Regions from separate parts of the Homo sapiens genome. Here region 2 is linked to region 1. The links come from fine-mapping of genetic effects on gene expression. A gene starts in region 1. The other region holds a variant in brackets. All regions are shown on one strand. Distances are between the middles of the regions.

Region 1 (5,370 bases):
AGGCTGAGGTGGGTGGATCCCCTGATGTCAGGAGTTCGAGATCAGCCTGGCCAACATGGTGAAACCCTGTGTCTACTGAAAATACAAAAATTAGCTGAGCATGGTGGCACACGTCTGTAATCCCAGCTACTCGGGAGGCTGAGGCAGGAGAATCACTTGAACCTGGGAGGCAGTGATTGCAGTGAGCCAAGATCGTGCCATTGCACTGCAGTCTGGGCAACAGAGCGAGACTCCCATCTCAAGGGAAAAAAAAAAAAAAGTAGGTGGGGCATCTAGTCAAGAAAATGGGAGGTCGGGCGCAGTGGCTCACGTCTGTAATCCCAGCACTTTGGGAGGCTGAGGCAGGTAGATCACGAGGTCAGGAGATCAAGACCATCCTGGCTAACACGGTGAAACCCCATCTCTATTAAAAATACAAAAAATTAGCCGGGCATGGTGGTGGGCGCCTGTAGTCCCAGCTACTCGGGAGGCTGAGGCAGGAGAATGGCGTGAACCCGGGAGGCAGAGCTTGCAGTGAGCGGAGATCGCGCCACTGCACTCCAGCCTGGGCGACAAAGCAAGACTCCGTCTCAAAAAAAAAAAAAAAGAAAGAAAGAAAAGGGGTAATTATAGTAGTATTTCCAGAGAGGCGCCTTCTCTACCCAAGAACTAGGGACACATCCTAAGGGGAGCCTCCTTCCCCTCTCCTGGTTCCAAGCAAGAAGACATGACTTGGCTGTGCAATTGGGAACCCTGGTCCCTCCTCCAGGAAGCCTTCTACCCGCCAACCCCCACTGCAGGCTGGTGAGGGTGCTGCCTCTGTGCCCCTCAGCCCTTGGCACTTGCCCTTGCTCTTGCACCCCTGCCATGACCTCTCCAGGTCAGGGACAGCATCTGTCCCCAGCATCACCTGGCACATGGCCTGCACTGAGTAGCTGTCAGTGAAAGTTGGTGAATGAAGGCATAAATAAATGAAGTCAAACTCTGTATTAGGCCTTCTTGCATTGCTATGAAGAAATACCTGACGCTAGGTAATTTATAAAGAGGTTTAATTGGCTCACAGTTCTGCAGGCTTTTCAGGAAGTATGGTGCTGGCATCTGCTTCTGGTGCAACCTCAGGAAGCTTAAGATCATGACATAAGGTGATGGGGAGCCAGTATATCACATAGTGAGAGCAGGAGTAAGAGAGAAGGGGAGGTCTTAGACTCTTAAATAACCAGATCTTGTGTGAACTAAGCAAGAACTCATCACCAAGGGGATGGTGCTGAACCATTCATAAGGGATCTGCCCTCACGACCCAATTACTTCCCACCAGGCCCCACTTCCAACATTGGGATCACATTTCAACATGAGATTTTGAGGGGACACACATCCAAACTACAGCAAATCCTATTGGGGGCAGAAATGAATCTGCCATACATAGGCCACACCTACTATGTGCTGACATGATACAGGGAGAGGAGTATCAGGAATGACTGTTGGGGATCCCTCTGCCATTCTCCCATGAGCAGACATCCCCAGGATGAGCTGAGGGGAATGCAATGAGCAGGCCAAACTCTTTCCAAGCTGTTTGACCACACCCACCTACCCCAGCACTCTCAGCCCCTGCCTGGTGCCCTGTGCTGAGCTGGGTGAGGCTGGGGAGACTGGTGAGTGAGGGCTGCCCTGCCCTTTTTGAGCCCCCAGTCTTCTGGTGAAGGAACATAGCAACATGGAGTGATTGGTATGGATGATGCAAAACCAGGGACATGGGACCCAGAAGTGCCCGAGCCAGCCTGGAAGGCCTCTGCCCTGGGCCCCGGGTGGCTGTTTGCTGCACAGCTCTCCCCACAGCCTGCCCCAAATAAACAGCTTATCTTCGTCCCTGAAAATGGTGCTCTCGAGTTCCATCCTTTTCAGAGCGGGTCCTCCCAGACTCCTCTTCCTGCATCCTCCTCCATCCCGCTTAGTGACACTTTGCCGTGGGTGGAGCCCCTCATTTGATCCTCAAGCCCCCGAGGTGGGTATTATACCTCGTTCGCAGGCAAAGGCTCAAGCGAGGTCAGTCTTAAGTTGCTGCCCACTGACCCGTCTACCAGTCCTGTCCTTGCGTCTCCATGGCTCAGGTCAGGGTTATCCTATCTGCTTCCCACCTCTCTCCAACACATGCACTCCCCAAGGCAGGCTCCATCACCGGGCCCCAGCCCCTGGCTCTCTCCTCCAACGCAGCTCCCCAGCCGGCCTGTAAAACCGAGGACAGGCTCCCGCCACGCCCTCGGCGGTCCTCAGGCCTTGGCGGTTGGGGAAGCCCGCCAAGGGCGACGGTTCCCCTCCAGCCCCACAGGCTGTGCAGCTCCGGCAATGAGTCTCCCTCAGGTCTCTGGGTCAGCCGGCGCCCCAGTGCGTGCCTCGGGGGCAGGGATCCCGGCTTTTCACTACTGTTAGTAACAGCTCGCGCGCGCTGCTTCACAGCAGGTGGGTGAGCCTACTTTTAGTCTTCCCATCGACACCCTTAGATGGCAGTTTTAACTTTCTCCCTACACACAAGGAGCTGCTATACATGGTTCCGGCTTGACGCGGATACCTAGTGACACTTGGCGGCCAGGCCGGGCAGACTTCCGGGTGGGTGATCCCTGGCGCTGTGCGGAGCCATTCGCTGCGCTGAAGCAGTGCGCATGCGCACTGGACGCTTCTTACCAGCGTCCTGACTACAATACCCAGGACGCACCCAGCCCGCCGCCTCTCGGAGCCCTTTTCAAACCGACCAATCGGCAACCCGCGTCTCCCGGCGCCGCGTTTAAATCCGTGCCGGAGGCGCGTCCTGCATCGTCTGCCGCTTTGGGTAAGGTGGGGTCAGGGTCGGGGGCGAGGCTTGCCCGGTGGGCCCGGTGCGGCGCGGTGCCCGCCGTTTTCGGGACGGGGAGGGGCCGCGCCCCGCCAGGAGCCGGGCCTGGGCTCGAGCAGGGGTCACTGAGGCCCCTCGCGCCGTGGTCGGGGATGCCGGGAGGTCTAGGGCTGCCCCCCAGGCAAACAGAGCCCCCAACACTCTGGCCCAGAAGCCGAGAATTCCGTTATCTCGTCTGATGGCGTTCGGGCTGACTCCCGGCCTGGCGGCACTCGGGCCCTGGGGTCCCCTGGGATGCGATCATTTCAGAGCGGCCCCCGCGCCGCCTCTCCCAGACCTGGCCGCGGCCTTCAGCTCTCTCTGCCTCTGTGAGCCGAGGGCTGAAGGAAGCCGGAGCCCTGGGCCCTGACACGTACTCACTTTCTGGCCCCGTTCCACCCTGCAGTGACTTCTGACAGCTCTCTCCATGGAAGGAGGCGGCGGCCGCGATGAGCCTTCAGCCTGCCGGGCAGGGGACGTGAACATGGATGACCCTAAGAAGGAAGGCAAGTCCTTGCTGCTGCGGCGCTGTTGTTGTTCAGGATGTTCAGTAGAGATGGAGGGTGATTTAATGTTTCCCTGAGAAATTCTTTCTCAAGTGCTCGACTTGTACTCTGCACCTGTGAAACACATGACATCTGCCTTCGTTTTCTGGTTTTCTTTCACCTCCTCCCCATTTTAAGTTTCATCACAGCCAGGATTCTCATCCGTTTTATTTACCGCAGTGCTCCCATGCCCTGAACAGCACCTAACACTTTGTGGGCTCTCAAATATTTATTGTATTGAATTCGATGTTTTCTTTTTTGTTTGTCGCTGGTTTCTGTTTGCTAAGACTTATTTAGGATCTTTGAGACCATGTTAATGAGTAAGCCTGGCCCCAAACCCCTTTCTTCTTGTGTCTTTGACTGGTTTGGGTATCAAGGTGAGGGTACAGCTTCACAGAATGAGTTACAGGCCACACCCTCTTTTTCTCTCAAAGCGTTTTTATTTATTTATTTATTTATTTATTGACGGAGTCTCGCTCTCTCACCCAGGCTGGAGTGCAAAGGCGTGATCTGTACTCACTGCAACCTCTCTCTCCTGAGTTGAAGGGATTCTCCTGCCTCAGCCTCCCTAGTAACTGGGATTACAGGCACCCGCTGCCACACCTGGCTCATTTTTGTATTTTTAACAGAGACGGGGTTTTGCCATGTTGCCCAGGCTGGTCTCGAACTCCTGAGCTCAGGCAATCTGCCTGCCTCGGCCTCCCAAAGTGCTAGGATTATAGGTGTGAGCCACCTCACCCAGCCTCACAAAGCATTTTGACATCCCTTGGGTAGTTTTCTCACACTACCCAAGGATCCTTTCTTTTTGAGACCAAGTCTCACTCTGTCTCCCAGGCTGGAGTGCAGTGGCATGATCTTGGCTCACTGCAACCTCTGCCTTTCGGGTTCAAGCGATTCTCCTGCCTCAGCCTCCCGAGTAGCTGGGATTACAGGCACCCGCCACCACACCTGGCTGATTTTTGTATTTTTAGTAGAGATGGGGTTTTACCATGTTGGCCAGGCTGGTCTCAAACTCCTGACCTCAGGTGATCCACCTGCCTAGGCCTCCCAAAGTACTGGGATTACAGGTGTGAACCACCGCGCCTGGCCCCAAGCATCCTCAATGCCTCCATTTTGCAGGAACTGTCCTGGAGACTTTACAAATCAATGTTGCATCTTCATATCTAGCAAGGCGCTTGCCTCTGCACCCCTCTCCTCCTTCCTGTCATGTCCTTCCTTTCAAATATGTCCTTTCCACGTGCATACTGCACCCCCTGCTCCTTCTTGAGGCCTTCCCCACTTCCGTTGACCTGACTTCATTTCCTTACTTTTCCCCTGTCCACTACTGGATCATGCGCATCCACATACAGATAATGTTCCCTTGTCTCACTTGTCGCCACGTCTCCTCCGTTGCCTCTCCATTGCTGTGTTTCTCCTTCCAAGCCAAACTTTGAGAGCTTTCTCACTTGTTATGCCATTTTTTTCCGCCTCTCAATCCCTCCCATTCCGGCTTCTGTCCTTACCACTCCATTCAAGCTGCTTTCATCAGTCGTTGACGACTTCCACATTGCTGAATCTCTTTTCACTTTTCTATCGCCAGTCAGCTTTTCAGTAACATTCGTCCTTCTGGAAACTTCCCTTGCTTGGAGTCCAAGACGCTCTTGGTTTTTTCCTCCTGCCTCTCTGGCTGGTGTATCTTTTCTCTGTCGGGGGCTCCCCCTCTGCTGTCTTCTGAGGCTGATTTCCCCAAGACCTGCTCTGGGACCGCTTTGTGCTTTCGCCCTCAGGGCGGTCAGCATTCCAATAGCTGTGCAGCGTATCTGCTCTCTGCGGCACCCACGTTTTGTCTTGAGCGCAGCCTCTCCTCCGAGCTCTGGGCTTGTATATTCACCTGCCTATTTGGCGTCTTCACATGCACGTCTCATCTCAAACTTGGCATACCCCCTCTGCATCTGCATACCCTGTTCTTTTTGTCTTTCTCATCACCCATTTTATTTCTCCATT
Region 2 (5,370 bases), 28 kb before region 1:
CATACTCCTGTCTTCTGAGCCCTCCAAACTGTTCCAACCTCTGCCTGTTACCCAGTTCCAAAGTTGCTTCCACATTTTCAGGTATATTTTTGGCAACACCCCACTCTAATGGTACCAATTTACTGTATTAGTCCATATTAGTACTCAGCTCAAGTGCAAAATTTAAGGGTGGAGGGGCACCAAAAACTCAATAATCAAGACAAATTCTCTTTTATTGAGGTAAAGTTCACATAAAAGTAACCATTTATGGGAGGCTGAGGTGGGAGGATTGCTGGAGCCAGGAGTTCAAGGCTTCAGTGACTTATCATCCCTATCCCCTCAGTCCCTGGTCACCACCAATCTTCTTTCTGTCTCTATGTTTGCGTATTCTGGACATGCATGTAAATGCACTAATACAAGTGTTACCTTTTGTGTCTGCCTCTTCCTTCAGTATGAATGAACCTTGAAAACGCTGTAGGAAAGGTGTGTCTTCTTTGGAGAACTGTCACCTCAAATTCTTTGCCCACTTTAAATTTGGGCTGTTTGTCATTTCGCTGTTGAGTTGTAAGAATTCTTTTTTTTTGAGACAGAGTCTGGCTCTGTTGCCCAGGTTGGAGTGCAGTGGCACAATCTTGGCTTACTCCAACCTCCACTTCCCGGGTTCAAGCGATTCTCCTGCCTCAGCCACCCAAGTAGTTGGGATTACAGGCATGCACCACCACGCCTGGCTATTTTTGTACTTTTAATAGAGATAAGGTTTCACCATGTTGGCCAGGCTGGTCTTGAACTCCTGACCTCAGGTGATCCACCTGACTCAGCCTCCCAAAGGGCTGGGATTACAGACATGAGCTGCTGTGCCCGGCCAAGATTTCTTTATGTATTCTGGATTCTAGACTCTTACCCAATATATGATTTACAAATGTTTTTTCCCATTGTGTTAATCTTTTCAGTTTCCTGAGTAGTGTCCTTTGATTCAGAAAAGTTTTTAATTTTGACGAAGTCCAACTTATCTATTTTGTTGTTGTTGCTTGTCCTTTTGGTGTTACATCTAAGAATCCATTGCTAAATCCAAGGCCATGAAGATTTACTTCTGTTTTCTTCTAAGAGTTTTATCTTTACAGCTCTCACATAAAACAAATAATACTTCAGTGCAATATTTCAAAAATCAAAACTAATGCAAAAAGTCCATGATGAACAAAATAGCATTTTAAATAAAGGCCAGATCTGCCCGTGCACTTGGTTCTACGCCCTTGATTCGTGCACCCTGGGGCGGGGGCAAATTAAACTAGGGGAGCCCATTGGACTGGGGCTGGTGTGTGGCTGATGGCAGAGTTCAGGCCGGGCCAGACCGGGCCAGTCCAGAGGGAGAAGCCGCTACTGCAGGAGACAGAGCGATTTTTCCGCTGCAAATCCTTGAGAAGGGAGGATGGAGGCGGCGGGACGACCCAGTGAAGCCGGCCCCGAACGCCAAGTGAGTGTGTGCCGTGCGCGCGCGGGTAGCTGCCGACCGCAACGACATAAACTTGAAAGTGACCGCTGTCCCGGAGCTCCCTGCTCCCAAGGGACCCGTCGCGTTGCAGAGTTGTCCGGTCGGGCCTCTGGGGCGGGCCCGGATCCTGGACCAGGGCCAGTCTGTCCGAAACCCACCAGTGAGCGAGCGGGAGAGCGCGGCCGCCCCGCCCCGCCCCTTTCCGCGACCGCCCCGCCCACTCCCAGGAAGGCCCGGGTGCCCAGAGCTCGCGGTGGACTCCGACCCGGCGCAACATGGCCGCAGCCTCGCCTCTGCGCGACTGCCAGGTACACGGAGGCTGCCCCCAACCAGGTCCCCCTCGGGCCCCGGGTCCTGGGGGTGGCCCGGTGCTGGCGGAATAACGGGAGACATGGCCCGGGCGCGGGGCGTGGGGTGAGCCCTGGGCGCACGGGCGCGTCCGCGGCAACGCCTGGAAGGGACCCGAGGCCCTTCTTGTAGAGTCCCCACCGAGGGAAATAAGGGACGCCTGTCAGGGTACTCGGGAGACCCCAAGACCTCCTAAAAAACGTAGCTCACTGGGCATGGCTGGGGACGCAGGGAAGCCCGCAAAGGTAAGGGGCTCCTTGGAACCGGCCCAGGACTGGGAGCCTGAGCCCATTTTACAGATGAGGAAGGTGGAGGTCAGAGGGGCCAGGAGACGTGTGTGTGTTGAAGTTTGAAGGGCTCCTGGAGAGAAGGCACTGCTATTCCCTTCTTGCCGTCTGTAGGCCTGGAAGGATGCGAGGCTCCCGCTCTCCACCACAAGCAACGAAGCCTGCAAGCTGTTCGATGCCACGCTGACCCAGGTATGCCTGCCGAGAGAGGCCGCGGCCCCTTCTGTGGAGGTCTAGGGGAAGGTTTTTTAATTGGGGAAAGCTGTTTTTTTGTTTTGTTTTGTTTTGTTTTGTTTTGTTTTTGAGGCGGAGTCTCGCTCTGTCGCCCAGGCTGGAGTGCA[G/A]TGGCGCTATTTCGGCTCACTGCAAGCTTTGCCTCCCGGGTTCACGCCATTCTCGTCCCTCAGCCTCCCGAGTAGCTGGGACTACAGGCGCCCGCCACTGCCCTCGACTAATTTTTTTTGTATTTTTTAGTAGAGACGGGGTTTCACCGTGTTAGCCAGGATGGTCTCGATCTCCTGACCTCGTGATCCGCCCGCCTCGGCCTCCCAAAGTGCTGGGATTACAGGCGTGAGCCACCGCGCCCGGCCATGGGGAAAGCTTTTTAAATTGCGCCATGACCTTAGCAATAGATGGCAGCACATCTGTGCACTTTGTACTGGAGGACGTGGGAGGGTGGGGACATATCTCTGCCCCCCCCCCACAGCGTCCTAAAAGGGCCTCTGCACTCTCCCTTCTTCCCCAGGACTCTGAGTGGTGGGTGGACAGCGGTGGGTGCAGTGGGGATGTTTTTTGAGGATGCTGGCCTCCCCGGGCCTCCCATTGTGGCCTGCTGAGGGTCTGATGCAGGGCTCGGCTGCTTAGGACGTGGGATCCTGTCCTGGGATGAATCTGTGAGTATACTGCCTTCACCTAGGCTGTGCCAAGACCTTCTGCCACATTACCAGTCATTTCTCTACCAATGAAGGGTCCTATAGTTTTAGAACTAGGAGAAGTCTCAGAAGTAAGATCCAACTAGCTTCCTTGACAAGTGGGGAAACTGAGGCTCAGAGTTGAACCTACTTGACTTGAAGGTTGTCCATGAATTACAGGCAGAACCAGGATGAACCTGGGCCTAACTGCACTGATAGAAACCTAAGCTGACCTTGGCGTGGGTGGTGAGGCCCCTGCATACTGACTTCATCCACATAACAGGAGGACTCAGGTAGCTCTTAGAAGCCTACGGGCTGAACAAGAGAGGACTGATGGAATGCTGTGAGCTGCGCCATGGGTGCCTCTCCTGTTCCCAGCCTGCCCTGCCAAGGGACTCTGCTGTGGGCATCTGAGTTGTTTGTTTATTTTGTGTTTGACCTGGCTCACTTGCCCTTCCTGTATCTCGCCGGCCTCTGTAGAGTACTCGATTTGTTTTTTGTTTGAGACGGAGTCTTGCCCTGTCACCCAGGCTGGAGTGCAATGGCGCAGTCTTGACTCACTGCAAACTCTGCCTCTCGGGTTCAAGCGATTGCCCTGCCTCAGCCTCCGAAGTAGCTGGGATTATAGGCACGCACCATCATACCCAGCTGATTTTTTGTATCTTTAGTAGAGACGGGGTTTCACCATGTTGGTCAGGATGGTCACAAACTCCTGACCTTGTGATTCCCCTGCCTTGGCCTCTCAAAGTGCTGGGATTACAGGCGTGAGCCACTGTGCCCGGCCCCTAGTACTCAGTTTGTTACACACCACATCCCCAATCAGTGGCAGCTCATCCTCCCAGCCTGGGTATATTTTGTCCCGTGTATTGGTGTCTCTGTGCTGTCCTGTGTTAGAACTTGGCTTCTTTAAATCTCTGTGCCAACCCTCCTGTATCTTGTCAAAATGCTTGCGTAGCTTATAGTCTCAGCTATTTGGGAGGCTGAGGCAGGGGGATTGCTTGAGCCTGGGCGGTTGAGACTGAAGTGAGCTGTGATTGTGCCACTGTACTCCATCCTGGGCAACAGAGCAAACCCTGTCTTAAAAAAAAAATACACGTACTAATTCTGTGTAGATGTAGGTTAGACAGCTGAAAGGGCATATTTTAAAATCTAATGTGTGATTATAGGTCTAGGACTTTTTTTAAAACAGGCATTTGAGTAAAGGACCAGGTACAAATACAGCAAATTGTTAAAAATGATGATGCGCTGGGCGCGGTGACTCACGCCTGTAATCCCAGCACTTTGGGAGGCTGAGGCAGGTGGATCATCTGAGGTCAGGAGTTCAACACCAGCCTGGCCAACATGGTGAAACCCTGTCTCTACTAAAAATATAAAAAAATTAGCCGGGCATGGTGGCATGGGCCTGTAATCCCAGCTACTCGGGAGGCTGAGGCAGAGGAATTCTTGAACCAGGGAGGTGGAGGTTGTAGTGAGCTGAGATAGTGCCACTGCCTTCCAGCCTGGGTGACAGGGCAAGACTCCATCTCAAAAAAGAAAAAAAAAAAATTAGCCGGGCGCAGTGGTGCACACCTGTAATCCCAGCTACTAAGGAGGGATTCTCCTACCAAGGCAGGAGAATTGCTTGAAACCTGGAGGCAGAGGTTGCAGTGAGCCAAGATCGTGCCATTGCACTCCAGCCTGGGTGACAGGGCAAGATTCTGTCTCAATTAAAAAAAAAATGATAAAATGAGCTTTGGGTAAGTTTTATCTTTCAGCTTTTGTGTCTTTCTAACTCTCTAAAATAAATGTTTTCTGTGAATATTTTTAAAACGAATGAATAAGAAGCAGGAATATTCCTATCGTGACCAACTTCAGGGCTCCTCTTAGGGCAGAAGAAGCCGATGTGGAGCAGGTCACCTGTCAGGAGGAACCTGCCTTTTCTTTCTTTTCTTTTTTCTTTTTTTTCTTTTTTGAGACAGAGTCTCACTCTGTCGCCCAGGCTGGAGTGCAGTGGCGCCTGGGTTCACGCCATTCTCCTGCCTCAGCCTCCCGAGTAGCTGGGATTACAGGCGCCCACCACCACACCCGGCTGATTTTTTGTATCTTTAGTAGAGACGGGGGTTTCACCGTGTTAGCCAGGATGGTCTCGATCTCCTGACCTCATGATCCGCCCACCTCGGCCTCCCAAAGTGCTGGGCTTACAGGCATGAGCCACCACACCTGGCCTTTTTTTTTCCTTTTCTCTGTCACCCAGGCTGGGGTGCAGTGGCACGATCTCAGCTCACTGCAACCTCTACCTCCCAGGTTCAGGCGATTCTCCTGTCTCAGCCACCCAAGTCTCAGCCGCCCAAGTTGCTAGGACTACAGACATGTGCCACCA

Direction of the effects. Alleles are on the strand shown, and positions count from the first base shown. SD is a standard deviation of normalised expression in the study named.
As copies of A replace G in region 2, the expression in esophagus muscle of the gene that starts at base 2,529 in region 1 goes down (moderate effect, 0.64 SD a copy in GTEx).

The links.
Region 2: its variant is fine-mapped to the expression of GTSE1-DT in esophagus muscle (GTEx, PIP 0.92).

Annotation. Positions count from the first base shown.
Region 1 is chr22:46,294,132-46,299,501 of GRCh38, forward strand. GTSE1-DT (GTSE1 divergent transcript) reads right to left here and starts at 2,529. Exons shown (of 1, transcript NR_024009.1): 1 at 1,012-2,529. It overlaps GTSE1 (G2 and S-phase expressed 1), which reads left to right and starts at 2,739. Exons shown (of 12, transcript NM_016426.7): 1 at 2,739-2,800; 2 at 3,249-3,348. The coding sequence starts at 3,270. RefSeq lists a silencer at 2,797-2,996 and an enhancer at 3,147-3,256.
Region 2 is chr22:46,266,297-46,271,666 of GRCh38, forward strand. It overlaps TTC38 (tetratricopeptide repeat domain 38), which reads left to right and starts at 1,712. Exons shown (of 14, transcript NM_017931.4): 1 at 1,712-1,776; 2 at 2,218-2,295. The coding sequence starts at 1,744. RefSeq lists silencers at 1,609-1,768, 1,779-1,988. The variant G/A (reference allele first, on the strand shown) is at 2,445.